7 linked regions of the Homo sapiens genome follow. The protein of the gene in region 4 purifies or fractionates together with the protein of the main gene of each other region. This does not show direct contact. Each region holds a gene or a part of one and is shown on either strand. Other genes may lie near its edges. The genes, in order: USP34, RPP14, OBI1, RPP21, NACC2, POP1 and RPP38.

Region 1 (3,500 bases), on a different chromosome or scaffold from region 4:
GTTAGCCCAGGAAATCCTCACAATAAAACCATGAGATAGATACTATTGTGCCCATTTTATTTTTAGAGACAGAGTCTCATTCTATTGCCCAGGCTGAAGTGTAGTGGTGCAATCACCACTCACTGCAGTCTTGATCTCCTGGACTCAAGCGATCCTTCCACCTCAGCCTCCCAATTATCTAGAACTACAGGTGTGTGATACCATGCCTGGCTAGTGTTTTTAATATTTTTGTAGAGACAGGGCCCCACTAAGTTGCTCAGGCTGATCTCAAGCTCCTGGCCTCAAACGATCCTCCTGCCTTAGCCTCCAAAGCACTAGGATTATTGTTCCCATTTTATAGATTGAAAAAATGAAGAAAAATTAATTATTTTGCCCATCATAATACCACCACTAAGTGACAGAATCACATTATTTGGTATATTTCACAGATAACCAAAAAGTTTTATGCTGGAGCTTACCCTTTTAAATACCCTAAAATTAGATGTGTAAAATTTCCCTTTCTTAATCACAATTTAGGAAAGTTTCCATAAGCACTCATATCTTTTTTAGGCATTTATTACAAGATGTTGAAAATCTAATCCTGTGTTATCCAATATAATACCAACTAGCCATATGTGACCATTACACACATAAAACATGGTAGGTCTAGGCTGGGTATAAGTAGCTTACGCCTGTAATCCCAGAGCTTTGGGAGGCTGCGGCAAAAGCACTGAGGTCTGGGGTTCAAGACCAGCCTGGGCAACATAGCAATACTCTGTCTCTATAAAAAAAAAAAAAAAAAATTAAGAATTAGCTAGGAGTGGCAACACACACCTTAAGTCTCAAGTGCTCAGAAAGCTGAGGCAGGAGGATTGCTTGAGCCCAAGAGTTTGAGACTACGGTGAGCTATGATCACATCACTGCACTACAGCCTAGGTGACAAAGTGAGACCCTATCTCTTAAAAAAAAAAAAAAAAAAAAAAAAAAGGCCAGGTGCAGTGGCTCACGCCTGCAATCCTAGCACTTTGGCAGGCCGAATCATAAGGTCAGGAGTTCAAGACCAGCCTGGCCAATATGGTGAAACCCCATCCTACTAAAAATACAAAAATTAGCCAGGCATGGGTGGGGGGTGGGGGGCACCTGTAGTCCCAGCTGCTCAGTAGGCTGAAGCAGAAGAATCGCTTGAACCTGGGAGACGGAGGTTGCAGTGAGCCAAGATTGTGCCACTGCACTCCAGCCTGGGTGACAGAGTGAGATTCCAACTCAAAAAAAAAAAAAAAAAAAAAAAAGGCCGGGCCTGGTGGCTCACACCTGTGATCCCAGCACTTTGGGAGGCCGAGGCGGGCAGATCATCTGAGGTCAGGAGTTCAAGATCAGCCTGGTCAACACGGTGAAACCCCATCTCTACTAAAAATACTAAAAAAGTAGCCAGGCATGGTGGTGGGTGCTTGTAATTCCAGCTACTCAGGAGGCTGAGGCACAAGAATTGTTTGAGCCTGGGAAGTGGAGGTTGCAGTGAGCCTAGATCGTGCCACTGCACTCCGGCCTGGGCAACAGAGCGAGACCCTGTCTCAAAGAAAAAAAGAAGAAGAAAACAAATAAATCAATAAATATTTTAAAGAATTAAAGGGTGGCTGGTCTAAATTGAAAAGTGCTATAAGTATAAAATATGCACTAAATATTGAAGACTTGGTAAGAAAAAAAGGAAGGAAATACCTTAGTAATTTTTATACTTATTACATGTGTAAATGGCATTGTGGATATTATTGGTTTAACATGATTAAAATTAACAACCTGGTTTTTTATTGTTGTTGTTCAACGTTTTGCTTTTGAGTCTCACTCTGTTGCCCAGGATGGAGTGCAGTGGTGTGATCTCAGCTCACTGCAACCTCCACCTCCCAGGTTCAAGTGATTCTCCTGCCTCAGCCTCCCAAGTAGCTGGGATTACAGGCGTGCACCACCATGCCCGGCTAATTTTTCTATTTTTAGTAGAGATGGGGTTTCACCATGTTGTTCAGGCTGGTCTCAAACTCCTGACCTCAAGTGATCCACCTGCCTCGGCCTCCCAAAGTGCTGGGATTATAGGTGTGAGCCACTGTGCATGGCCAACAACCTGCTTCATTTTGTGTTTTTAAATGTGCCCAATAGAAAACTTGAAATTATCTATTTGTAGCTTACATTTATAGTTTGCACTATACTACTAATGAATAGCACTAATACAGAATAAATTGCAAATTGAATATAGGATATAATACTTCCCTAAAGGAAATATGAACTGAATATTTATTTTGAAGTAGGCTTACCCATCGTGGTGGTGGTGATGGTGGTGGTGGTGGTGGTGATGCTGTGGACCAATAAATTGTCGACAATTAAATAATTCATTCCCAATAGTCTCCCCAAGGAAGTCCCCAGTTCGTGTGATACAAGACTCCTGAGACCCTTGTGCTATATGAGTAGCATTCATTTCCCCTGAAATATCATGTTCTGGGTCTTCAGAGTGTGAACAAGCATCCAGCATTCGCATTCGATTATCTACTGATGGCAATGATTCAGTGTTAAAAACCAGGTCCTTTCCTGTTCCGCTGCTTGTCCCATTTCTTTCTGACATGCCTTGGGAGTCCCCCAGGCAAATGCCTGCTTGACTCTCTAACTTTCTATTCCGAAGATCTGTACCACAACTGCTTTTGGGAGGATTATGACCATGATCATCGTCTTCATCTTCCTCTTTGAGGGCTTCAATATCTGCAATGTCTTCTGACTGTACCTCACTGCCAGGGCTCCCAGCTGACTGGCTTGCGTGGCTAGAATTAACCTCATTGCTAGATCCATCACTATGCCCACTACTGCTACCAGGACCACTGCTTCCATCTTCACCACTGTTGGCAGTTTCGTCAGAACTTCCCTGCATGGATTCCTGTATTTTGAAACAAATAGATTTAAATAAATATTTAAACCAGTAAGAAAAAAGGTAACCAACATTAATAAACTGTACTTTTTAAAAAGGCTGCCAGTCTTGTTATACTCCTTTGAACAATACAAAATGGAATTAAAAACTCAAAGGATGTCAAAAATATTACGTAAAGGAGAGGACAAGCCCAAACATGAATTATGTATATATACCCAATTCAAATGATAAACACGCCAGAAAGCCAAAAATGCCTATAAAAGAAGAAAAACCTATTTTCATACCTCTGTGTCTGAAAGTCGTTGTTGCACATGTTTGGTTCTATTAATAAGTTGCTCATCCATTTCAATGTCACTACCTCCACTTTGATGTGTATCGCTATTATCACTGCTTTGAGGACTAGCTGCAGGTGACCCTATATAAAATACATTTTTTGTTTTTACTTCTAATTTATATTAACATTGACTTAACAGAATGACATTATCATTTGATTCCTTGACCTAGTTACCAAAGCTTTATGCTAAGTAGCCAAAAATAAAATCTCTAAATATGTTAACATTTGCTCATGATTTCTAAAGAAGATGTAAGATTCAATTAAAAGTCAAGATGTTTAAGA
Region 2 (4,223 bases), on a different chromosome or scaffold from region 4:
CAGGGGTTGAGAAGAGGGATTCCTGGAAGGGGCACTCAATGCAGCTTCTAAAAGGTCTGAACTTTCAAGAACGTAGAACATGCTCATCTCTCTGTAGACAGTTCCTTTCCTTGGCTCCATGCCAACCTTGCTCTCCCTCTGGATAGGTCCTATTCATCCTTCAACTTTCAGTTTAAATACCACCTCTTCATGAAGGTCTTCTCTGACACCCTTCTCTAAGTTAAGCCCCCATGTTATGCAATCTCTTAACACTGTCTATTTGTTTAATATATGGATCCCCCACTACAGGGAACAGGAAACTGAGGCCCAATCAAGGAAAGGGACTTATCCAAGGTCACAGAGCTATGGACCAGCATTTCAAAACCACTCTGGGTTAGACCCAGTTCCAACCACTCCCAGATGATGACCTCTGGAGAAAAGAAGTCAGGGTCAAGGAGCTACATCTACCAATCCATTCAACAAACATTAATACTTTGGGGCCTGGCGTGGTGCTCATGCCTGTAATCTCAACAGTTTGGGAGGCCAGGAGTTTGAGACCAGCCTGGGAAACATAGTGAGACCCTGTCACTAAAAAAAAAAACAAAAAAACTTAAATTAACCAGGCATGGTAGTGTGTGCCTGTAGTCCCAGCTACTCCAGGGGCTGAGGTGGGAGGATAGCTTGAGTCTGGGAGGTTAAGGATACAGTGCACTGTGATTGTACCACTGCACTCCAGCCTGGGTGACAGAGCATGACCCTGTCTCCAAAACAAACAAACAAAAAATACTGTAATACTATGACACAAAGTAGGTATTCAAATGAGAGAAAAGTGATAGTGGTATAGGCCTATATATTCAAAAGAATCCTTGGTTTCAGGACAGCGGAAATAGTTACCTGATGCTTCTTTCCCAGTCACTAGAGTCTCCCCTAACTAGAAGGGCAGGGAGAACAAGAAACCTCATCTGTTTCTTTCATTGCTTGGCACATAAATGTTTTTTAGTGTTACTGCCTTGATGGAGCTGGCTGCCTAAAATAGGGGAGTGAAATTAGACCCAGGGCTTAGATGCCAGTAAAACGAAGACTTACACAACATTCACGAGATGGACAGTGGTGATGGCTGCACAGCGTTGTGAATGTACTCAATGCTACTTACGATAAATTTTATGTCACGTATTTTTTGCAATTAAAAAAAAAAAAAAAGACTTACAAATGACAGCACTGCCCTCTGCAGGCTGTTCTGACATTAAAGGAGAGGATACCTGGGAAATTATTTTGTACAGACTGGTATTAAATATATTCACCAGGCTCTCCACAGATGTGGGCTCACGAAGTTACTGTCATCGTCATCTTTAAAGTCAGTCTTGTTGTTTGTTTTGAGATGGAGTCTCACTCTGTCGCCCAGGCTGGAGTGCTTTGGGTCGAAGCAATTCTCGCTCCTCAGTCTCCTGAGTAGCTGGGATTACAGGCGTACGTCATCACGCCCAGCTAACTTTTGTATTTTTAGTACAAATGGGGTTTCGCCATGTTGGCCCAGGCTGGTCTCGAACTCCTGGCGTCAAGTGATCCGCCGACCTCGGCCCCCTCAAAGTGCTGGGATTACAGGCATGAGCCACCGCGCCCGGCCTAGAGTCAGCCTTTTTTAGTGGCTGCGCAGGGATGCTCCTAATCTGACCTATTAGTAATAAATCTGATTCTCCCTACTCCCCCGCTTCTCCATCCCTACGGCGGCCAGTGAGTCTATTAACATCTACTCAAGCTACATCATTCCTCTGCTCAAAATCTTGCTATGGTTCCCGTTTTATCCAGAGTAAGGCCAAAGTCCTTAGAGCAGCCTGCAAGGCTCTGCCTCACCTGCAGGACTGCTCCCTCTACACCTCTGACTTCATGTCCTGCCATTCTCCCTCCGCTCAATCCCCGCCACCACACAGGCCTAGCCTAGCTCTTTCTCACGCGCCAGTCTCGCTCCCACCGCTGGGCCTCGGCTCTAGCTTTTCCCCATGCTGGGAAAGATCTTCCTCCAGGCAGCCACCGGACTCACACCCTTGCCCCCTTCCTGGCTTAGCTCAAATCTCAATCGGGTTGGCCCAGTGCCCTTCTCGGCTAACACCGCACCCCACCCCCATGCCCCGTCCCTGCTTTCTTCTTCGTAGCATTTGCCTTTTTCTATGACAATTATGTAACTCGTTTATCTTTATCTGTACTTCCCCTCCCCACCCCAACAAAAGTCCACTCCAAGAATCTTGCTATCTTGTTCACTGCTGTTTCCCAAGGCCCTAAAACACTGGGTCGTGCACAGTGGGCGTGCGACGTACAATTTTTGGACTAAATCAATCACTTTAAAAAGCTCAATATCCTTACTGCTGAGCACTTGGGTGGCTTTCAATATTTTTCAACAACCACTATTTAGCGCTCACCTCGCGCCGGGCGCATGGAGAGCGCTCAGGACACGGTCCCGAAGTCTCGCCCGGGCCTCTCGGCCACGTTCTGCGGCCGAGACCCTACGCGGCGCCGTACAGAGGCCCTCAGCGCCCGGGGTCGGAGAGGACAAGCTACCCAAGGCGCACCGCCCGCCCCGCGCATGCGCCCGGGTCGCGGCCAACTGAGACGGCTCCCAGACAACCGCCGCTCTTTGGAAGGCTTCCACCTACCCACTCTTCGTCGGACTAGCCTGACGCCTGACCAGACTCCTATTCGCCGCAAGGACCCGCCAAGGCTTGGGGCTCCCCGGCAGCAGCCACAGCTGGGCCCGAGAAACTCCTGGTGTCTTTACGTTTGGCTTCTCCTCGTCCCGCCCCACGAAGCGTGACGCCCAGGCGGATATGACGTCACCACGCGGCGTCGTCCTAAGGACCCAGGCGCGAATCCTGATCCGGAGCTGAGAGCGGCCGAGCTCAGCGCCCTCTGGTGTCCACTCCGGGAAAGCCGTGTGTGCAATTTGCTTGGGGTGCGGTTTAGGGCGGGTTTTTTCCGCCTTGGACGGTGCTTCATAGTTATCCATTTCTTCATGCATTCATTCATTCATTCAACAATTTTTTCGTTGTTTTTTTGAGACAGTTTCACTCTGTCGCCCAGGCTGGAGTGCACTGGCGCGATCTGGCTTACTGCTACCTCCGCCTCCAGGGCTCAAGCGATTCTCCCACCTCAGCCTCCTGAGTAGCTAGGACTACAGGTATGCTCCACCATGCCTGGCTAATTTTTGTATTTTTAGTAGAGACGGGGTTTCACCATGTTGGCCAGGCTGGTCTCGAACTCCTCGCCTCAAGTGATCTGCCCACCTTGGCCTCCCAAAGTGCTGGGATTACAGACGTGAGCAACTGCGCCCGAGTCATTCTACACATTTTTTTCATTATATTATAATTTATTTATTGAGATGGAGTCTCGCTCTGTCGCCCAGGCTGGAGTGCAGTGGCGCCATCTTGGCTCACTGCACCCTCCGCCTCCCTTCAAGTGATTCTTCTGCCTCAGCCTCCCAAGTAGCTGGGACTACAGGCATGCACCACCATGCCCAGCTAATTTTTGTATTTTTAGTCGAGACGAGGTTTCACCATGTTGGCCAGCATGGTCTCAATCTCTTGACCTCGTGATCTGTCCACCTCGGCCTCCCAAAGTGTTGGGATTACAGGCGTGAGCCACCGCGCCTGGCCTAATTTTTGTATTTTTAGTAGAGACAGGGTTTCACTATGTTAGCCAAGCAGGTCTCAAACTCCTGACTTCAGGCAATCCACCCACCTCGCCTCCCAAAGTGTTGGGATTACAGACGTGAGCCACCGCGCCCAGCCTACAAAATTATATCTAGCATCTCCTCTCCTCAAGATCTCCTATGTCAAGCACTCCCCAAAGATAGGACCCACTCTCAGTGTCCCTTGTGACTCCCAGCACATAGTAGGTGTTCTATCTAGGCCGTCCTGGAAAGACCCACAAAGTAAAGACTTACTTTGTGCTAGGCACTATGCAAAATATTTTACATATGTCATCTCATGGAACCCTCACACAATCCTGAGATGGCTATTACTATGATCATCACCATTTTAGAGGTAGAAACTGAGGCACAGGCCAGGCGCAGTGGCTCATGCCTGTAATTCCAGCACTTTGGGAGGCTGAGGCGGGCAGATCACTTGAGGCCAGGAATTCGAGACCAGCCTGGCCAGCATGGTGAGACCCCCATCTCTACTGAAAATACAAAAATTAGCTGGGCACGGTGGTGCACACCTGTAATCCCAGTTACTCGGGAGGCTGAAGCAGGA
Region 3 (4,149 bases), on a different chromosome or scaffold from region 4:
GGCAGATCACCTAGTTCGGGAGTTCAAGACCAGCCTGACCAACATGGAGAAACCCCGTCTCTACCAAAAATACAAAATTTGCCGGGCGTGGTGGCGCATGCCTGTAATCCCAGCTACTCAGGAGGCTGAGGCAGGAGAATTGCTTGAACCCGGGAGGCGGAGGTTGCGGTGAGCCGAGATCGCGCCATTGCTCTCCAGCCCGGGCAACAAGAGCGAAACTCCGTCTCAGAAAAAAAGAAAAAAAAAAGAAAAAAAGTTAAGTAACTTGTAAAAGGTTGTATGAGTGGTAAGTGGTAGATTAGATTAGAACCCGGCTAGCCTGAATGTAGAACTCAGGCCCTCAGTCACATATCCTTTCTGCTTCCATGGTACCTGGGGGGGGGGGGGGAGGAGCCTGTTTAAAAATCCTTAATTAATTAATTTTCTTTTATTTTTAATTTTTTTTTTTTTTTTTTTTTTGAGACAAAGTCTCACTCTTGTTGCCCAGGCTGGAGTGCAATGGCGCGATCTCAGCTCACTACAACCTCCGCCTCCCAGGTTCAAGCAATTCTCCTGCCTCAACTGGGATTACAGGCGCCTGCCACCACACCCAGCAAATTTTGTATTTTTAGTAGCGATGGGGTTTCACCATATTGGCCATGCTGGTCTCAAACTCCTGACCTCAGGCGATCTGCCCGCCTCGGCCTCCCAAAGTGCTGGGATTACAGGCGTGAGCCACCGCGCCTGGCTTAACCTTTTTGAGCCTGTTTCCTTATCTGTAACAGTAGAAATATGGTAATAACATCAACTCCCCATCCTTTCTGTTTTCAGAAGATTAAATGAAGCATGTGCAAAGTTTAGCATAAAGTCTGGCACATAAGATTAAGACAAAAGTCTTAATCTTTTTATTTTTATTATCTGATTTTTATTTCAGAATAAAGTTAACCAATACAGGAAAAAAAAAACACTAAAAATGCCTGATGTCATGGATGAACTTAGGTGAGGGTTTTACGAAGTAATCTGAAGACAAATGGTAATAATGATAGAGGTTCAACTATGAAGACTCAAAGTCTTAGTATTCTGAAGACACAAATGATAGTATAGAGGTTCAACCACAGACTCTAAGCTTTAATATTCTTATTTTAAAAATGGAAAAACCAGCCCTATCTTAAAGCATTGGTGTGAAGAGTAAACAAAATAATATATGCATACAAAAGCACTCTGTAGTCTGCAAATCACTATATTCTATGAGGTATCACTCTCGTTAAATACAAAAAGTATAGGTTTGGTAAATCAAACAGAACACTGTCAATACAATTGCAAAAGACAGCCTATAACTAATGGAAACTATATATAATGTGTACAAAATACTTCCCAAGAATATTTTTATCAGCCTTTAAAGCCAGTGTTGGAGGAAATTAACTCAGAATTTAACACATATTTCCAGGAACTTTATGTCAGGAGCCAAATGTAGACTGTGGCAAATAGAAACATCGCTTCTTCCCTCCCCCTAGCCGTGCAGGCAGTAAGTAATAGCTCAATGCCAGCTCAAACACCATCCTCGATGAGGCCATCCTTGATCTCTCCAAATTGATCAAGCCATCCCCAATCCATGATCTCCCAGCACATTTGCTATTTCATTGGCATTTCATTCTGACTGCTATCCAGAATTATCAGTTGCTTCCAATGCTGACTTTCTTCTACTTTTTGAATCCAGTAAATTCACACAGAACTTCAAACACCCCAGGCAGATCGTATTGGCCGGCACTCAAATGCTTGCTCTAGAAGTTTGTATTTCTCAAATCTGAGTCTACGGCTCAGTCTGCGCTGGGGGGTAAACACACACCCTGACACACCACAGACGTAAAAATAATTCAGGGTGGAAAAAAGTTGGTGGTTTATCTTTCCCCTTCTTTATCTATTCGGTAAAGAAATGCTCTTTAAAACACCGAAAGTGAGGCACAAATGGAAATGAAAGAGGAGAGGAATGCATTAGAATATTCAAAGCTCCGTTTCTAATTCAGAACCACTTTCCCTACCTTGTTTCACAAACACACTAGGCACCTCTTGCATCACAAAGAGAGAGTATTCTATCTCCTGACTGACCCATTCTTGGAGTTAAAAGCCACACCTCTTATTCTAATACCCTCCAGGAGCACTTACTATTTACTTTTCAAATTAGGAATTCAGAGCAAAGGTCATCCTCAAGGCCAGGATAAAGGCAAAAGGTCTTGGAAATGGAAAAGACTCAATACACAGCACCGTAGGCCCCAGAGGATGAACACTAGTTACAGAGGACTAAGAAGCCCGAGGTGAGGCTCCCAGGAAATGTGTTTTAATGGGCTTCACTACACGCCACGCGAGGCTGCAGAGGGAAGTTAAATATCCCTGCGATGCGTTTCTGATGGGGCCTCCTTCGAGGCCGGTGTCTTGCCAGTGTGAGGCCGCGGGCGGTGGCAGGGCCGTCTCGCCGCCCTCCCGGCAGACCACGGGCCGCTGTCACCCTCCTCCGAAAGGCGCCCAGATGAATCCATTAATCACGGTGCGCTACCCCCATCTCCCAGGACGCGGCCTCCCATCAAGAACGCGGGTTAGCGTTTTCTCCCATCTCCGCGCCTCACGCCCCTTCCCCGCCCCCGCACGAGACGGCCCTCGGCCCCGGCGAGCGACTTATCCAACCCCGTTTTGTAGCTGTGCCCACAATCACCCATTACCTTCCCCAAGCAAATGTGGCACGTGATGGGCAGAGTGAGCGACAATGTAACATTCTGCACGGTCTGAGCCATGGCAGCGTTCAGAATCCCGCCAACACGGAAGTCCCGCCGACCTACCGCTACTCTTCGCCAAGACTGGGCACGCGCGGGCCGGCTACGGCGCCCCGGTAGGGCCATAACCCGCCCAGGAGAGAAAACGAAAACGCGCTTTCGAAACGCGCGATCTCCAAGGCGTTTTCCTTTCATTAAAAAAAAAAAAAAAAAAAAGAAAGAAAGAAAGAAAGAAAGAAAATTCACTGATTAGGGAGCTGCAAGATTCCTGCGAATGTGTAGGAAGGTAGTTTACTACAAGTATCGAGGATCTTGGAAAATCTAAAGGAAAGCGGAATAGTGGAGACAGAAGAGGAAGATACGGAAAGGCGATTTTTTAAATCCCCAAATTGTTTTCGGGGATTGGATGGGGTGAAGGATGGAGAGTTTTTCGCCTAATTATTAAACCCCACACATCCGCCAACACAGCGTAATCAAAACATAGAGAAAAGACATTATCTACACGTTTCAATTTTTTTCAAAACAGCTTTCCACCTCTGTCAGTTCTCTTTCCACTCAATATAATGTGCTTCCAGAGGGCACAATAATTCACTTAAGAAAACAGTGATTGTCTCCTTATCTGTGTCCGAGACGATCCTGATACATTTAATCGCAGCTTTCCCTGAAAATACATTTTTACTGTGGGCTTCTCTGGGTTTTCCACCAAAAGGAGATTAACGTTTTCACGTCTTCATTTCAGGTGCATGGTTGCATATGAAATGTACCGCTGTGTTGTTGAACCCCAAGGGAGAATTTGTGAGGTTATAAGTTGCGTTTCCTACCAACAAAAAAGAAAAAAACCTAAAAGTTCCTAAATTTATCTTAAATGCAGTATAACAAATTTGGAATTTATCTGCAACTTACTTGAAGCGAGGAAGAGCTGATGTGATAAATTACGCTAACAAGTAAAATCTGTGAGTTGAGAGATTTAAAGACAAGACCATCGGGACAACTTTTACTAATCTTTGTGAAAAAGACGCAGTATGACTTCAAGAAGCAGCCTCATGGTTAAGAGAAAGGGGTTCTGGACCTGGGCTGCTTCAGCGGAAATCCCTGCCCCCAACAACTTCCTACCTAAACGGTAGCTCCATGGCTTCTGGCAACTTTTGTTTTGTTTTTTGAGATAGGGTCTAGCTCTGTCACCACTAGGTGCCAACACAGCGACCTCCCAGGCTCAAGCGATCCCATCCGCCTGCCTCAGCCAGCCTCCCGAGTAGCTGGGATTACAGTCATGCGCCACCATGCTTGGCTAATTTTTGTATTTTTAGTAAAGACGGAGTTTCACCCTGTTGGTCAGGCTGGTCTCCAACTCCTGACCTCAAGTGATCCGCCTGCCTCGAGGGTCGGGGAGTGGTTTCCCCATGTT
Region 4 (3,516 bases):
AGTTGTTTATTCTTAAGAAAACTCTGAGAGTTTACCTATGGGACATAATTGCAAAATGTCTGTCGGTGTCCTTTGTTAGCATCTTTGACTTTGTTAGTTCAGGTTTGCGCCATTTCCTTTATCAGAATTTTATTAAAGACAACTTTGAGACTGGGAAAAGACCTGAGTCTTTTCTGACTATGAGTGGGCCTAGAGGATACAAACACTCTCCGCTGCCCCATATTTCTCCCCTTGTTTAAAAACAGCAGCAGTGGCATCATTCTCTCCAGCTCTTCAGTCAGCAATTATGGCTGCCCAAACATGGAATGCCCTAAGGTGGCTCAGGACATTGATAGGGAACTGGGGCCATGGCCTTGGAAATGCAAGCTGCTGAGTGAGGCCAAGTGGTCTATGGAAATCACGATCTCCCTGCATGGTGGGATTACAAAGGTGACCAAGAAACACAGACAGAAACAGAAGAAAATGGAATTAAGAGTTGAAATACCCACAGAACAGAATCATGGAATGTAAAACAAGTAAACTTTATTTGGGAGATGGGGTGAATCCATCACTGGTTACTGGAACCCTGAGTCTGCATTTTCTCCTCAGGAAGGCGGTCTGAAATGGAGTGGGCTGTGTTTGGCAAGGGTTGTAGTGGTTTGGAATCTGAGTAAATGAGCAGAATCAGAGAAACAGAATTAGTTTTCTGACTGTGGTACTTCTCACACCAACCCAGAACCTGTCCATGTGTCCTCTTCACTCTACGTTCTCCATTGTCCCTATCCTCTGGGGTGTCCTCCATTTTCTCCCTCACCTCTCACCTGCTTGGCTCCCGAGCTGGGCCTCAGGCCTGTCTCCCCAGAGTAAATGCCCGGGATCATTGAGGAAGCGTTGGCTGCGCTGGCATGTTAGGCAGGTCTGTACGGTCCAGCGCTGTCCCCTGCAGCCTAGGGTGAACATGGGAAAAAGACTGTCCACGTTTAGAAGTAACGGTCTCTTGCTGCCAGTTTTGCCTCCAGTGTTTTTCAGTAGGTATCCCCGCTCCCCCACCACACCCCCAATTTGAATGCACATTTGATGGTGTCAGGCCTCGGCATAAGCTCCATCGATTTCCTGGAACTCTTTAAGATAAAGTTCAAACTCCCTAACAAGACTTCAAGAACTGGCCTGTTTCCCCCTCCAGTCTCATGTTTTGCCCTCCTACCTCAAACTCCAGCCTCCTGAACTCTCATTTCTTTGACAGCACCACAAGCTCTCTTGTCTCAGAGTCTGCACACATGCCTAGAATTTCCATCTCTCACTCCCTTTGCTTATCATAAACTTCGCCACCACTGGCATGAGTAAGTGAGCATTCTACTCCCCCAGTTAATCTTTTTCTACACCATTTTGTTTCTTAGTCTGTCCCATCAGACCGTAATTTCAATGAGAATAATGAATCTAGCACAGTACCTGACACATTTTAGAAAATAAGTATTTGCTTAATAAATGAATGGTGATGGGAATCGTCCTCCACAAAGCCGAACAACATCTATTATTGTGCATGGGTGGGGTTGCCTCTTAAAAGTTATTATTTATTGCCCACACTGGAAGAAAAAAAAAAAAAACAGCCGAGCCCAAACCCTAGTTTGTGCAAGTGGCGTTAGGAACTTAATCCAAACCCGAAGAAGGAAGACTCCTGCGAATCCCACACCCAACATCCATCTACAGTGAGAAAGGCGCTGTTGGCCTCCAGTGCCCGCCCCCCACCCCGCCCCCCTCCGCGCCCCCAATGCTCCGCAGTCTTCCACCTCCGTTGGAGCACTCACGTCTCTGGCGCTGGGTGCAGGTGAGGCCCGGGACGAGGAGGGAAGAGCAGCCTCGACAGAGAGTCCTCTTCACCGAGGGATCCCTGGGGGCGGAGGAGGATAGTGGTCTGGCGCCCGCGCTCCCTCTCGCGTTCCTCCCGCGTCCCGCCCGCCGCCCGCCCCGTGGCTGTCTCACCGCCGCAAGACGAGCCGCTTCGCAATGGTCCTCTCAGTGTAGCAGTAAAACCTCGCCAGCGCCTGGTTCTCGGGGTCCTGGGCAAGGACACAATGGGCGGCCTGCGGGAGGGGAGCAGTCACTCTGGGACGCCGAGCACCGTCCCCGTGGGGCCCTTGTCGCAGACTCACCTGGTACAGGAAGTTGAGCCTCTGGAAGGCCTCGCGGTCCTTCACCGGCCCCGCCATCACCGCCGCGCTCCAGGGCCTCCCGCAGCCCCACCCCTCGCACAGCCCCGCCCGGGCGTCCGCGCGAGGCCTCCTGGGAAACGTAGTCCCCGCGCCCTCGGGAGCCTCCCGGAGGCCTCACAAACTCATCGGTTTCTAAACACAACCCCAGCAATCCATGCCCAGGGTCCCTTTATGAATTTTCAGTGCTTTTGTCTTCCTCAAGCTCATGACCAATTATATCACCTAGAGACCTAGTGGAGCAGGTGAGGATCTTAAATCGGCCATTTTCAGGACAGAAGGCTGGTCTCTTTATGTAGCTACGTTGGGGAGATGGTTATGTGCAATTTATACCCAGCTAGAGCTTCTGCCCTACTCTCCTGAGGTCCGAGGCAGATGCCTGTAAGATCTACAGACGGAAGGCACAGAGGTAATACATTAAAAAAAAGCACTGGTGCCAGTGGGGGTGAAAGTGGGAAGGATCATGAGGGTGCTGGAGGGAGGGAAAAGGACTCCCGGTCCTCAGAAAGCACAGTTTACTCCTACTATTCCACCTACCAAAGAAACACACTTCCTGTTATGCAGTGCTGGACACACAGTAGGTGATCCTCACTTTCTGAGTGAATGGTTTCTAACTCCTAGGCTTAGGTACAGCACAGAAATCTGTCAACAGCATCCCCTGCCCCTGAAACTTCACCCCACTCCCCACACTGACATTCACCTCACACCCCTCCCTCTGACCTCTTCTATCTTCCAGTTCTTCTGTCTGGTGTCCTGTGACTCATAGTGACTATCAGTTACTGAAGTCAGAAGCAGAGGGACATGAATTGGAGGGGTAGAAGATCAATGAACCCTGAGATGGGGAGGGCAGCATAAGTCAGGAGAGGATGACTTCTCTCCAATTTCAGACCCAGTGCCAGGCGGGGACAGACAAGCAGGGCTCCAGCTGGGAGGAAGGACATGGCTGAAACCTCCTCTGGAACTAGTTTCACAAGGGTTTTCGGACTCAAATGAGAGTGGTGTGTTTAAAATGTAGATGTAGGCTGGGCACGGTGGCTCACACCTGTAATCCTAGCACTTTGAGTGGCTGAGGCAGGTAGATTACTTGAGTTCAGGAGTTCGAGACCAGCCTGTCCAACATGGCAAAACCCTGTCTCCACTAAAATTAGCCGGGTGTGGTGGTGCATGGCTATAGTCCATAGTAATCCCAGCTACTCTGGAGGCTGAGGCAGGAGAATTGCTTGAACCTGGGAGGCGGAGGTTGCAGTGAGCTGAGATCACCACTGTACTCCAGCCTGGGCGACAGAACGAGACTCTGTCTCATAAATAAAATGTAGATGTCCGGCCCACC
Region 5 (4,000 bases), on a different chromosome or scaffold from region 4:
CGGCCTCACACCACAGGGCTTTGCTTCTCCTTCGAGCCACGCCTGGAAGCCCAGCCCCAGGTTTCCTCAGCCCAGGCCAGAAATGTCACCCTGAAGTGGAAGGTGGCCTACCTTGTCCTCAGAACCACAATGGGAGGCTGGTCAGCCTGGGCCACTGAGGCAGGGACATGTGCTACCAAGGTGAAGGTGGACTGGGCCGGAGGAGCAGCAGAGTCAGGGGGCCCCATAGTCAAGTTCCCAAATGTGTTCGTTACACTGGGGTCTGTAGAAGGCCTTGGTTCTCCGGAGAAACATGCTGGTGTATCCTGGGGTAAGGGGTGCCACCTGCTGCCCCCCTGTGGACTCCGACCCTCATCCCACCGGCCACAGTCCAACTGGATCTCGGAACCCACTGCGTGACCCTGCAAAGGGGATGGAGTGACCCCAAGGGGCTGTGAGATGCAGAGAGGCAGCCTGGGGACAGTGTGTGGAGGTGGCTAGAACAGGGCTGGCTGAGGAAGGAACATGGGCTCTGCCCCACTGACGGTGGCTGGGGCCACTGGGCACTCGGTGCCCTGTGCGTTCCAGGGACACAGGTCAGAGGCACAGACCTCAGAGGAAGGGGCACAAGGTGGAACCTTGGGAACTCAACATCCCGAAAAGGACAACACCTTGGTTCCCCATTCCATCCCTCGGGCCTGGGAGACCACACTGCCCACAAACCAGGAAAGCAGGACTCCGGAGGCAGAGGCCAAGAGGAGTGCAGGCCTGGAAGAACCGCTCAGCACCAAGATCGTCACTGTTGTTTCATGAATAATGCAGCCTCATGCTTTAATTGGAAAACAAAGGGAGGATTGAAGAATTTTTTAAAAGTCACCACTAGCCCCCTGCCCAGGGCAGAGCAGCCCTGCGAACCCTTCCAGCAGCCGGTGGTAAAGAACAGAGCCTGTTCTCGCAGCCTGTAGCAGCCCAGCTCCCACTGCTCCCAGCAGGAGATCTCCCGGGTGGCTCCTCCCCGCCTTCCCGCCAGGCCAGGGCCAGCACCATCGAGCCCTGGGTGTGACCACTGCGAAAGGATCCCTGGCCACTAAGAAGTGACAAGTGATATCTTGTTCCACTCTCTGTGCCCATTCCAAGTGGCTTTGCCGAAAGGACAGGGGGCCACCACCTTGGGTGGCAGCTCCTTTTATTTCCTCCCCTTGGACTCTGGCCCAGCTACCACCCAACAGTGACCCCAGGGGAAAACGCCAAGAGGCCTCTTTAAGGGAGGGGCTGGGAAAGGCCCCACAGAGGACCAGAGGGGTGCTCCAACGGTGGCCGGGAGAAGAAGGGGTGGGTGGCTGAGAGGTGGCGGGTGGGGCGGGGGCTGCCTGAACCCTGACCTAACTCTAGGCGCCCCTGCTGGGGGGTGCTACAGGCTAAAACACCCTGCAGAATGCTGAGCTGAGTGTCCCACTGGAGAACAGGAGGGAAGGAGGTCAGGAGCCTGCCAGACGAAAAGAGGGGTGGGTGAGAAGAAGGGGCGACCTGGAGGGACACGGACTCTGGCAGGAGAGTGCGGCCGCGCTGGCGGGCGGGAACACCAAGGTGCACGCGCTCCCGGAGGCAGCTCCACGGGATGGGAGTCCGGGCTGCCTTGGGCACCCCCGGGTCAGCACCCCCGCCACACACAGGAAGGAACGCGCAGCAGAGAACACAGCTCAGGGCACCCAGCGGCCCAGGGAGACGGGCCCACCAGCACGTGGGTGAAACACCTCCAATCCGGAGGCCCCGCGCGGGGGTTGGGGGAGGGAGTGGAACGGCCTGGGAGGCCAACTCCAGGGACCCGGCCTCGCGGCCTTCAGACCCACAGGTTTAAGCGGCTCCACGACGAGAGTCCAAGACCAAACTTCCCCCAGAGCCTGGCAGAGGGGCTGGGAGGTGACCTCTGACCTCCGACCCCACACGATCCCAGCAAGAGAAGCAGGAAACTCCGTCGGAAGGCCTCGGTCCGCCCTGGCCGTGCGGGGTGCGCGGCGGGCCCCGGGCTCCGCTGAGTTTCTTAGAGAAGGAGCTGGGGCCCCCCGACCTCAGCTCCGCAGAGGCACAGAAGCTGGCAAGAGGCAGAGCCCCCTCCCCCTGCGGCCGGACCCCAGTTTCTCCCCAGGCTGGGGCCCGAGTGGGGGAGGCGCGGGAGGCGGTGACGACCCACGAACGGGCCCACCTGGACCGGGAGGGCGAGGCGCGGGCCCGGCTGGGCCAGGCAGCTGCGCAGATGCGCCGGGAGGGGTGGGTACCTCCGCCCTGGCCCCGGGCCAGTCCTGCCCCGGCTTCCCCACCCGGAGGGCTGGATCGGCCAGTCGGGTCCCTGGGGAGGCCGCGCGGGTCCCCAGAAATCCAGGGAAACCCAGCAGGCGGCGGGGAGCGCCCCGGGACGCCCGGAGCCGGGGTCTCCCCGAACGCGCGGCGCGGCGTCCCGGCCCGGGGTCGCGGGCGCCTCCGCCGGGACCCCCCGGCCCCGCCCGGCCCCCCTCCGCGGGCTCCCGAGGCCGGTTCCCGCGCGCACGCCCGGGCCGGCGCGGAACTCGGCCGCACCCGCCCCGCGCGGCCGGCACTGCGGCAGGGGGCTCGCGCCAAGTTGGGCGGCCGCGGAGTTTGCGGGAAGTGCGGGCCCGGCCCGTGGGACGACCCCGCCCGGCGGCGTAACCCGGGGGCGGCCGCGCGCGCCAAGTTGGCGGTACCTGCGGGCGCCCGGCCCGGTCCGGCCTGGGCAGCTGCGGCGCGCCGCCCGCGGCAGGAAGTGCTTGGCGTCCCGGCGCTCCGGCTCCCATGGACTTTCTCCGACCTCGCCCAGCACCGGCGGCCGCACCGCGGCGGGGGCGGGGCGGCGGCGGGGGAGGTGCCCGCGGGCCGTTAAAGGGACAGCGCGCCGGCCGCGCGCGCGCGCGCACTGGCAGCCAGGTGGGCTCCCGGGGTCGGGGCTGGGGTCCGGGGGCCGGGAGGGTCCCCAGTGGGGGCCGGCGGGGCGTGGGGAACCCCGAGCGCTGGGGAGGGGAGGCGGCAGCTCCTCGCCCCTCGCGCGTCCTCCTTCCGGAGCTGCCGGCGGTCGACCCTGCGCGGGACACCCGGCGGGAGCCGGACGCCGCGGCGCAGAGGACGGAGCTCGGCGGCCGGGTCGGGAAAGGACCTGGAGCGCCGCCCTCCGCCCTCCCCGGGCCCCGGCCTCGGCCGGACTCGCTAAGCCCGGGAGAGCCCCCGGGCCCCCCTACCCCGCCCCCGGCGCGCGCCCTGCCCGCGGCAGTCGCGTCCGCACGGTGCAGCCTCCGGGATCCGGGCGGGGGAAGTGCGCGCATCCGCAGCCGCCCTGGACGCTCAGGCGGGCCGTGAAAGACGAGGATACGGGAGCGCCCTTGGGCGAACGTCTGCGGGGCTCCGGCGCCCGTCCCTGCGGCCCGGGAACTGCAAGCTGCCTGGACTGGGCCTGGCGCTGCCTTCAGGCCTGGTGTGATCCGGGCGCACTGGGGCGTTGACAGTCATTCCGGCACCGGCCACGCAGCTCTCCATCTGCCCAAGGCCACGCTCCTGAGGACAGAGGTGCAGTTTTAAAACAAGGGCACGGAAATAAAACGGCCACACACCCGGAAAGACCCAGAGACCCCTCCTCAGCTGCCCCCTAACCTGGGGCCTGAGGTCAGGACAGGCTGCAGTGGTCCTCAGAGGCTAAGCCAGCCTCACTCCCACAGCACGCTCAAGGGTCCTTGCAGGAGAATGGAGTGATACCGCCTCAGTGGTCCCGAGCGAGGGCGCTGGGAGAAGGGTTGAGAAGGAGATGGCCACCAGCATCCCAGAGAACGCCTTTGGGGCTCTGGGGATCAGAAACCTGGGGCTACAGCCCTTCTGGCACAGTCAGCCAAGGTCATTCCCTGGACAAATCATCAGAAGCTTGGCCAGGTTCTTGTCACCCCAACCTCAAGCTAGGCCCTTGATCTTGGCCACAGACTGGCCCTTGACCCCAACTTTAGGTTCTATTCAGCTCTGCGTC
Region 6 (3,500 bases), on a different chromosome or scaffold from region 4:
GTTAAGTAAAGGTATAAATTCAGTTCCTCAGTCACTCTAGCCACAATTCAAGTATTCAACTGCCACATGTGGCTAATGGCTGTCGTACTGGACAGCACAAAGGAACATCATCCTCACAGAAAGCTCTACTGGAAGTGCTGCCCTAGACATACTGCTCTTAACCTTTTTAGAGATTCTAGACCCCTAAAACTAGCCCCAGAAAACCAGCCAGGTGCGGTGACTCATGCCTGTAATCCCAGCATTTTGGGAGGCCAAGGTGGGCGGATCACCTGAGGTCAAGAGTTCCAGACCAGCCTGTCCAACATGGTGAAACCCTGTCTCTACTAGCTGGGCCTGGTGGTGTGCACCTATAGTCTCAGCTACTCGGGGGGCTGAGGCAGGAGAATCGCTTGAACCCAGGAGGCAGAGGGTGCAGTGAACCAAGATCGCACCACTGCATTCCAGCCTGGGCAACAGGATGAGACTCAATCTCAGAAAAAAAAAAAGAAAAGAAAACCTACATGGCACACGCACACATCACAAAATCTGGCACACAATTTCAGGGATTTTAGAGACTCCCTACCTATGAAGCAGAAGTTAAGACCCTCTACAAGACTCACAGATGCAAGAGCAGTCTGTATTTAAGTAAGAACAGTCAGTTTACTGATCATATCCACTTAGTTGTGGTCTTCTAGGAGAAGTGAAAGATAACAAAATCTTTGATAATAAGCATAATAAGTAGGGAAATAAACATCTAAAAGCCATGGCCCAAAATGTTACCAAATTATATATTAGGTTTCACAAATTTGACAGGAAAAACATGATTAGAATAAAACACTACAGTCACTTTTACTCTTACAGTGTGGACAGAAGCAGCTTTTATTGCTTCAGTTAGGATGGAGTGGGAAAGTGGCCCAATCAGCCGGAATCTGTTCATCTCCATCGTCAAATCGCTGAAAAAGAAAGAACATCTTAAAATGGAAACTTTCATCACACAACATCTGTGCCACTGACAAAAATGGAGCAGGTCTTCACTGAAAATGTTCAGTAGGTTCAAAGCAAATTCAACTCATACCTGATTATAATGCCTGTGGTTGGAGAGATCCAAGAGTATGGTAGACATGGATCTCTAGTTCCATCACCGATAATTTTTTTAATTGGTTTAGCATTTTCTCCATCATCTTTCCTTTTTCTTTTCTTGCCAATTTTCTCGTCAGGCAATTCAGTTTGGCTTTTTTCTTGGGATGGTGTTGGAAGTGGGTCAGCGATGCAGACAGCTGATTTGATGGGTTCCACACACTGGCACGCTGCTTTTATTTCCTCTAAGATATCCTAAAAATATATTTAAACATTCACTTTAAAATCTTGAAATTTAAATATATTACGACAAATTTAGTTGGGTTTTTTTTTTTAAATCTCTTTAAAAATTAACATTTTTGGCCAGGCACGGTGGCTCATACCTGTAATCCCAGCACTTTGGGAGGCCGAGGTGGGTAGATTACCTGAGATCAGGAGTTCGAGCCCAGCCTGACCAACTGGCAAAACTCCATCTCTACTGAAAAATACAAAAAATAGTTGGGTGGCAGGCACCTATAATCTCAGCTACTCAGGAGGCTAAGGCAGGAGAATCACTTGAACCTGGGAGGCAGAGGTTGCAGTGAGCTGAGATCGTGCCATCGCACTCCAGCCCGGGCAACAGAGCAAGACTCCGTCTCAAAAAAAAATAAAAAATAAAAAATAAAAAAAAATCACATTTGTATTCCCTCACAAATTAACTTAAATTAAATTTATCATCAAAAAGCTTTTTTCGGCCAGGTGTGGTGGCTCACGTCTGTAATCTCAGCACTTTGGGAAGCTGAGGCAGGAGGATGGCTTCAGCCCAGGAGTTTGAGACCATGGCCTGGGCAACATAGGGAGACCTTGTTCCTACACAAAATAAAAAAATAATTAGCTGGACAAGGTGGTGCACCCCTGTAGTCTAAGCTACTCGGGGAGGCTGAGGTAGGAGGATCATTTGAGCCTGGGAAGTAGAGGCTGCAGTGGGCTATGACTGCACCACTGCACTCAAGTCTCAATGACAGAGCAAAACCCTCTGGGAAAAAAAAATTTTTTTTAATTTAATTTTAATTTTTGAAAAAAAGCTTTTTTGGGTGTTCTGAGTAGTGTATGCCACTTTAAACAAAAAAAAATTTTGAAACTGAAAATTTCAAATGGGTTAATTAGGGCTGGGGCTAGGGGTAGGGTTAGTCAAATATTATGAAAACAACATGATCACTCTGACTACATTTTTTTAAAGTAGTGAGTATGCTAAAGAAGGGAAGCTAAGCTAAATTCAGTGTGAAAAATCATTAGAATTACTCAAAAATAGCTTTTCATTATCAAATAGCCCCTAGATACTAGTGAACCACTTCAGTCATGGTAGAAACATTAGTTCAAATTCAACATTTCAAATAATTAGCATAAGGCTGGTTTTTATCTCTACTTCTGCTTATGACTTACTAAAAATATGAGATGTCAAGATTAGTTTTTTTTTTTTTCGAGACAGGGTCTCACTGTCACCCAGGCTGGAGTGCAATAGCACGATTTCATCTCACTGCAACTCTGCCTCCTGGGCTCAAAGTGATCCTCCCGCCTCAGCCTCCCAAGTAGCTGAGACTACAGGTGCATGCCACCAATCCTAGCTAATTTTTGTCTTTTTTGCAGAGACAGGGTTTCACCGTGTTGCCCAGCCTAGTCTCAAACTCTTGGATTCAAGTGATCCAACTGCTTCAGCCTCCCAAAGTGGTGGGATTACAGGCATGAGAAACCATGCCCCGCCCTGACTTCATTATATTTGATAAACAAGTTCCGGGGATATAATGTACAGCATGGGTGGTGATGGATGTGTTATTTGATTGTGGTATACAACATGTATATCAAATCATCATATTATATACTTTGAATATATTTGCTTTTTGTCAATTAGACATTTTTAAATACAAATTTTTAAAGTTTTTTAAAAATTCACTTCATTCAATAATCATAGAGCCCCCCATATACAAATATCAGACTATCAGACAAACCTTTACACTATTTACATTTCTACAGTATTGACTTCCAGCAGTAATTAAAAATGCAGTTTCAGAATGACGGGAGATAACCTGAAGGATTATACCTGTTTAAGGGTTGGATGCAGCCAGATCCACAGCTGCCTGCTCTCAGAAGGGTCACCCGGGGTCCTCTGGGACTTCCAGATAAACGTAACAGGCCCAAGCATTTCTCTGGGATATTTATTCACCCGATAAAGCACAAGGCTCCCTTGGCGCTTTCCAGACAAGCAGTGAACTGCTGCAAACGTCAGCCCTGACATCAACAAAAGCAAAATTCCATAATTCCGGGTGTTGAGACTGCAGTCCTATTTCCTGATAACCACACTGTCATTTACTGTCTGCCTCCATGAGAGGTGAAGTTTTGGTTGTGAGGATTGCTCAGATCAAAGCCTGGCACACAATAAGTTCTCAACAAATATGTGTTAAATGAGT
Region 7 (4,114 bases), on a different chromosome or scaffold from region 4:
CAGAATCTGCTGGGGCGATAAAGAGAGCCAAGTAGTCTGGATAAGCATAATCTCACGCAATATAATCCAGAAACAAAGTACTGACTGATAAGATTTTATAGCTTTAGAGAAAGAGAGAAAAATAGGCTTTGCTGAGGGCCCTTTAGAGCTGTCTCAAGAGGCCTCTGCTGCCTGTAGATCAAGGGCAAACTCTTTTTACTAGACAGTCTTGCCCTGTCACCTGGCAGTAGTGCAGTCGTTCGATCATGGCTCACTGCAGCCTTGAACTTCTGGGTTCAAGCAATCCTCCCACCTCAGCCTCATGCTGAATAGCTGGGATTATAGGCGCATACCACCAAGCCCAGAAAATTTTTTTAATTTTTAAATTTTCTGTATAGGCTGGGCACGGTGGCTCACACCTGTAATCCCAGCACTTTGGGAGGACAAGCTGGACAGATCACTTGAGGTCAGGAGTTCGAGACCAGCCTGGCAAATATGGTGAAACCCAGTCTCTACTAAAAATACAAAAATTAGCCAGGAGTGCTGGTGCACACCTGTAATCCCAGCTACTTAGGTGGGTGGCTGAGGTAGGGGAATTGCTTGAACCCAGAAGGCGGAGGCTGCAATGAGCCGTAATTGCACCACTGTGCTCCAGCCTGGGCAATGGAGTAAGACTCCGTCTTAAAAAAAAAAAAAAAAGAAATTCTATAGAGACAAGGTCTTGCTTTGTTGCCTGGGCTGGTCTTCAACTCCTAGGCTCAGGCAATCCCGTAGCCTCGGCCTCCCCAAAAGTACTGGGATTGAGGGCATGAGCTACCATGCCCCGCCTAAACTCTAATGTGACATAAAAGGCCCTCCACACTCCAGCTCAATCTCCCACTTAGGCCCTCTTTCTCCTTAGGCCCCACCAAGCACAAGTCCTCAACACCGAACAACATACTATTTAATGAGGCCAGCATTTTCCCACCTGCAAGTCTTTATACACATTAGTCCCTCTGCCTGGAATACCACTCCCACCCTCAGCCGCAGGCCCCTTCCTTTCTTCAACAAATATTTATCGATTATCCACGATGTGCCAGGCCATAAAGATTAAGTATTTTTTCTCACAGACCTCATGAGCTTAGAGTCCACGAGGAAAAAATATTAGCAAGTAATTATACAATAAAGCCTGATGCACATGAAGGTCAGGGAACAGTATGCTTAGGGAACATCCAGCAGAGGCCTAGCTTAGTTGAGGGGGGTGGGAAAAGGCAGTCCTCACAGAGGAACTTTTTTTTTTTTTTTTTTTTTTGAGACGGAGTCTCATTCTGTCGCCAGGCTGAAGTGCAGTGGCACAATCTCGGCTCACTGCATCCTCCGCCTCCAGGGTTCAAGCGATTCTCCTGCCTCAGACTCCCGAGTAGCTGGGACTACAGGCACGGGCCATCACGCCCGGCTAATTCTTGTATTTTTAGTAGAGACGGGGTTTCACCATGTTGGCCAGGATGGTCTCGATCTCCTGACTTTGTGATCCGCCCGCCTCGGCCTCCCAAAGTGCTGGGACTACAGGCGTGAGCCACCGCGCCGGGCCGGACCTCTTAACCTACATCTAAACAATGCCTACCAAAGGAAGTATGGAGTAAAGAAAGGTATCTCAGTATTAAAAGAAATAAGTTGGCTGGCGAGGTGGCTCACGCCTGTAATCCCAGCACTTTGGGAAGCCCAGGCGGGCGGATCACTTGAGGTCAGTAGATCGAGACTAGCCTGACCAACGTGGTGACCCGTCTCTACTAAAAATACGAAAATTAGCCGGGCGTGGTGGCAGGCGCCTGTAGTCCCAGCTACTCGGGAGGCTGAGGCAGGAGAATCGCTTGAACCCGGCAGGCGGAGGTTGCAGTGAGCCGGAATCGCGCCACTGCACTCCAGCCTGGGCGACTGCTATGTCTCAAAAAAAAAAAAAAAAAAAAAAACACGTTCAAATAAGTTCAATGTGGCTGGGGCAGAGATGCTAGAGAAAGCGGTGAGAAACTAGGAAAGGTGGGTAAGGACCAGATAATGAAGACCTTTGCAAGCGTTCCAGTGTGAAGCAACTTTAACATCTAAAGCAGAGGTGTCGTGATTAGAAAGACGTTATAGATCTTTGTGGATCTGGGCAAAGGAAGAGTCCCCGAGCAGCAAAGACGCTCCTGGAGTCGTCCAGGTTAGAAATGACGGTGGCCTGCACTAGAGACGCCGCAGAAAGGACTGGAGAAAAATACATGTTAGTCGGAAAAGAAGGTAGAATCTCCCGACACAGTAGTGACCAGCTGGAAGTAAAGTTGAGAACGGTATTGGTGGTGACTCCCGGTTTCTGGATCCCGCCGGTAGCCGAGGGGCGACGGCCGACCCAAAGCTCACCTCCCCACTGCACGCCGCCCCTGGATCGAGTACCTTGGTGCTTTACTATTTAGCACACGGAAGTGTTGTTCTGTTGTCCGTGTCTCCTTGGAGACCGTGGAGAACAGAAGGGCCGGCGGGGGTTTTCGCTTTGTACTCCTGGTGCCCAGCCGGCGCTGCAATCCAGCAGAGGAGCCGGACTAGAAACGCGGAAGCTCTGGGTGCACGCGCCCGGCCCGGGACTGGGCGGCCCAACCGGGAGGGCGGCGGGTCCTGCGGCCACGCAACAGGCGTTGGGGAAGCAGCAGAGACCCTGCGTGCGCGCGGGCTTCGGCCTCCAGATTCCGCAGAGTCCCGGGCCCGATCCCCCCGGGGCTGGCCTCCTGCCCTACGTGGGCCCCGCGCGCCCACCTGGAACTCACGATGGCGAATCCGTGGTCACCTGAAGGCAACAGCACCGGCGCCCAGTGCGCCTGCGCCGCGCGTGCGCAGAGCCCTCGCCTCCCGGCCTCGCCTCGCAGACGCGACGGGCCGGGGAGGAAGCGCTCGGAGCAGTGCAGGTTTCGTTATCCTGTGTTAGGTCACTCCGGAGAGGGGAAAGCGGCCCACAGCGTCGCGCGACCCGGAAACGACACAACGAGGCCCAATCTTTTAGACTCGAGTTTAGGCCCCGGGGTGGAGTCTCCGGACCGGGTCCCCCCACCCCCGCTACAGGGGCAGTGCGCAGGCGCGAGGTATGTATCGCGAGACCATGCGGTTGCCCGGGTAACCAGACGCTCAGGACTTGGACCGTCCAGTTGTTCGGAGGCCAGCCTATAGCCAATGGTATCCCGAGGGCTCGCTCTCTCCGGGCGTTTGTGCTCCCCTCTCTCTTCTAACCCAGTTTCTACCTTTCAGTGCTTTGGAATCTTAGCCCTCTGTCTCTATTCGCTTTTCTGTATTTGCCTTGCCTCAGGGACGCACAACCCCAGCCCCTGTCCCAGTGAGCCCGTCGCCATGGAATCCCTGCAGACTCCCCAGCACCGCGAAAATCAAGATAAAAGGGAGAAGGAGTATGGGGTAAAACACATGCCTATGGGCAATAATGCAGGGAATCTTGAGCCCGAAAAGAGAAAGGCAGTAAGAGTTGCCTTGAGTTCAGCAACAGCTGCACAGAATATCCCGTCCAGTGTCCACTGTGGCTGCTCCAAGCAATGGAGACTCAGGCTACCATCGGAGTCGCTGCAAAGTCGGGGACAAGTGATGAAGCGGCCGAATAACATTTTAAAGCTCAGGAATCTGGATCTGTTGATCTACCCTTGGCCAGAACTTAGAAGACGGCAGGTTGCTTCTGACCTAATGAGCCTCCTCCTTCTCCCCGCTTTTTCCGGCCTTACTTGGGCCCCCTTCCTTTTCCTCTTTACGTATCTGCCTCCTTTTCTCAATCTCCTCACTGTTGGTTTTGTATCCTATTTTCTGGTATAGTTTCTGTGATTTCTTTCTTTTATTTATTATTATTATTGTTGTTGAGACAGAGTTTTGCCCTTGTTGCCCAGGCTGGAGTGCAATGGCGCGAACCTGGCTCACTCCAGCCAGCGCCTCACAGGTTCAGGTGATTCTCCTGCCTCAGCCTCCGGAGTAGCTGGGGTTACAGGCACGGGCCACCAGCCCAGCTAATTTTTGTATTTTTAGTACAGACGGTGTTTCACCATGTTAGTCAGGCTGGTCTCGAACTCCTGACCTCAGGTGATCCGCCCACCTCGGCCTTCCAAAGTGCTGGGATTACAGGCATGAGCTACTG

The links.
Region 1: the proteins of RPP21 (region 4) and USP34 purify together in Homo sapiens (affinity purification with mass spectrometry; one large-scale study listed by BioGRID and IntAct). This does not show direct contact.
Region 2: the proteins of RPP21 (region 4) and RPP14 purify together in Homo sapiens (co-immunoprecipitation; 3 studies listed by BioGRID and IntAct, with this or other methods). This does not show direct contact.
Region 3: the proteins of RPP21 (region 4) and OBI1 purify together in Homo sapiens (affinity purification with mass spectrometry; one large-scale study listed by BioGRID and IntAct). This does not show direct contact.
Region 5: the proteins of RPP21 (region 4) and NACC2 purify together in Homo sapiens (affinity purification with mass spectrometry; one large-scale study listed by BioGRID and IntAct). This does not show direct contact.
Region 6: the proteins of RPP21 (region 4) and POP1 purify together in Homo sapiens (co-immunoprecipitation; 3 studies listed by BioGRID and IntAct, with this or other methods). This does not show direct contact.
Region 7: the proteins of RPP21 (region 4) and RPP38 purify together in Homo sapiens (co-immunoprecipitation; 3 studies listed by BioGRID and IntAct, with this or other methods). This does not show direct contact.

The regions. Positions count from the first base shown.
Region 1 is NC_000002.12:61,345,588-61,349,087, forward strand, and holds part of USP34 (ubiquitin carboxyl-terminal hydrolase 34), read right to left. Parts: intron 3,300-3,500; coding exon 3,169-3,299; intron 2,894-3,168; coding exon 2,283-2,893; intron 1-2,282. UniProt on the Homo sapiens protein: Ubiquitin hydrolase that can remove conjugated ubiquitin from AXIN1 and AXIN2, thereby acting as a regulator of Wnt signaling pathway.
Region 2 is NC_000003.12:58,304,822-58,309,044, reverse strand, and holds the start of RPP14 (ribonuclease P protein subunit p14), read right to left. Parts: upstream 2,801-4,223; 5' UTR 2,628-2,800; intron 2,526-2,627; exon of another isoform or gene 2,394-2,525; intron 1-2,393. UniProt on the Homo sapiens protein: Component of ribonuclease P, a ribonucleoprotein complex that generates mature tRNA molecules by cleaving their 5'-ends.
Region 3 is NC_000013.11:78,656,356-78,660,504, forward strand, and holds the start of OBI1 (ORC ubiquitin ligase 1), read right to left. Parts: upstream 2,801-4,149; 5' UTR 2,766-2,800; coding exon 2,694-2,765; intron 1-2,693. UniProt on the Homo sapiens protein: E3 ubiquitin ligase essential for DNA replication origin activation during S phase.
Region 4 is NC_000006.12:30,343,842-30,347,357, reverse strand, and holds RPP21 (ribonuclease P protein subunit p21), read right to left. Parts: upstream 2,203-3,516; 5' UTR 2,187-2,202; coding exon 2,130-2,186; intron 2,061-2,129; coding exon 1,960-2,060; intron 1,892-1,959; coding exon of another isoform or gene 1,868-1,891; coding exon 1,785-1,867; intron 927-1,784; coding exon 801-926; coding exon of another isoform or gene 794-800; intron 646-793; coding exon 548-645; 3' UTR 501-547; downstream 1-500. Other genes in the region: TRIM39-RPP21 protein, read right to left, coding at 548-645, 801-926, 1,785-1,867, 1,960-2,060. UniProt on the Homo sapiens protein: Component of ribonuclease P, a ribonucleoprotein complex that generates mature tRNA molecules by cleaving their 5'-ends.
Region 5 is NC_000009.12:136,092,490-136,096,489, forward strand, and holds the start of NACC2 (nucleus accumbens-associated protein 2), read right to left. Parts: upstream 2,801-4,000; 5' UTR 2,700-2,800; intron 1-2,699.
Region 6 is NC_000008.11:98,134,293-98,137,792, reverse strand, and holds part of POP1 (ribonucleases P/MRP protein subunit POP1), read right to left. Parts: intron 3,322-3,500; coding exon 3,134-3,321; intron 1,312-3,133; coding exon 1,055-1,311; intron 933-1,054; coding exon 839-932; intron 1-838. UniProt on the Homo sapiens protein: Component of ribonuclease P, a ribonucleoprotein complex that generates mature tRNA molecules by cleaving their 5'-ends. Also a component of the MRP ribonuclease complex, which cleaves pre-rRNA sequences.
Region 7 is NC_000010.11:15,096,041-15,100,154, reverse strand, and holds the start of RPP38 (ribonuclease P protein subunit p38), read right to left. Parts: upstream 2,801-4,114; 5' UTR 2,389-2,800; exon of another isoform or gene 2,022-2,388; intron 1-2,021. UniProt on the Homo sapiens protein: Component of ribonuclease P, a ribonucleoprotein complex that generates mature tRNA molecules by cleaving their 5'-ends. Also a component of the MRP ribonuclease complex, which cleaves pre-rRNA sequences.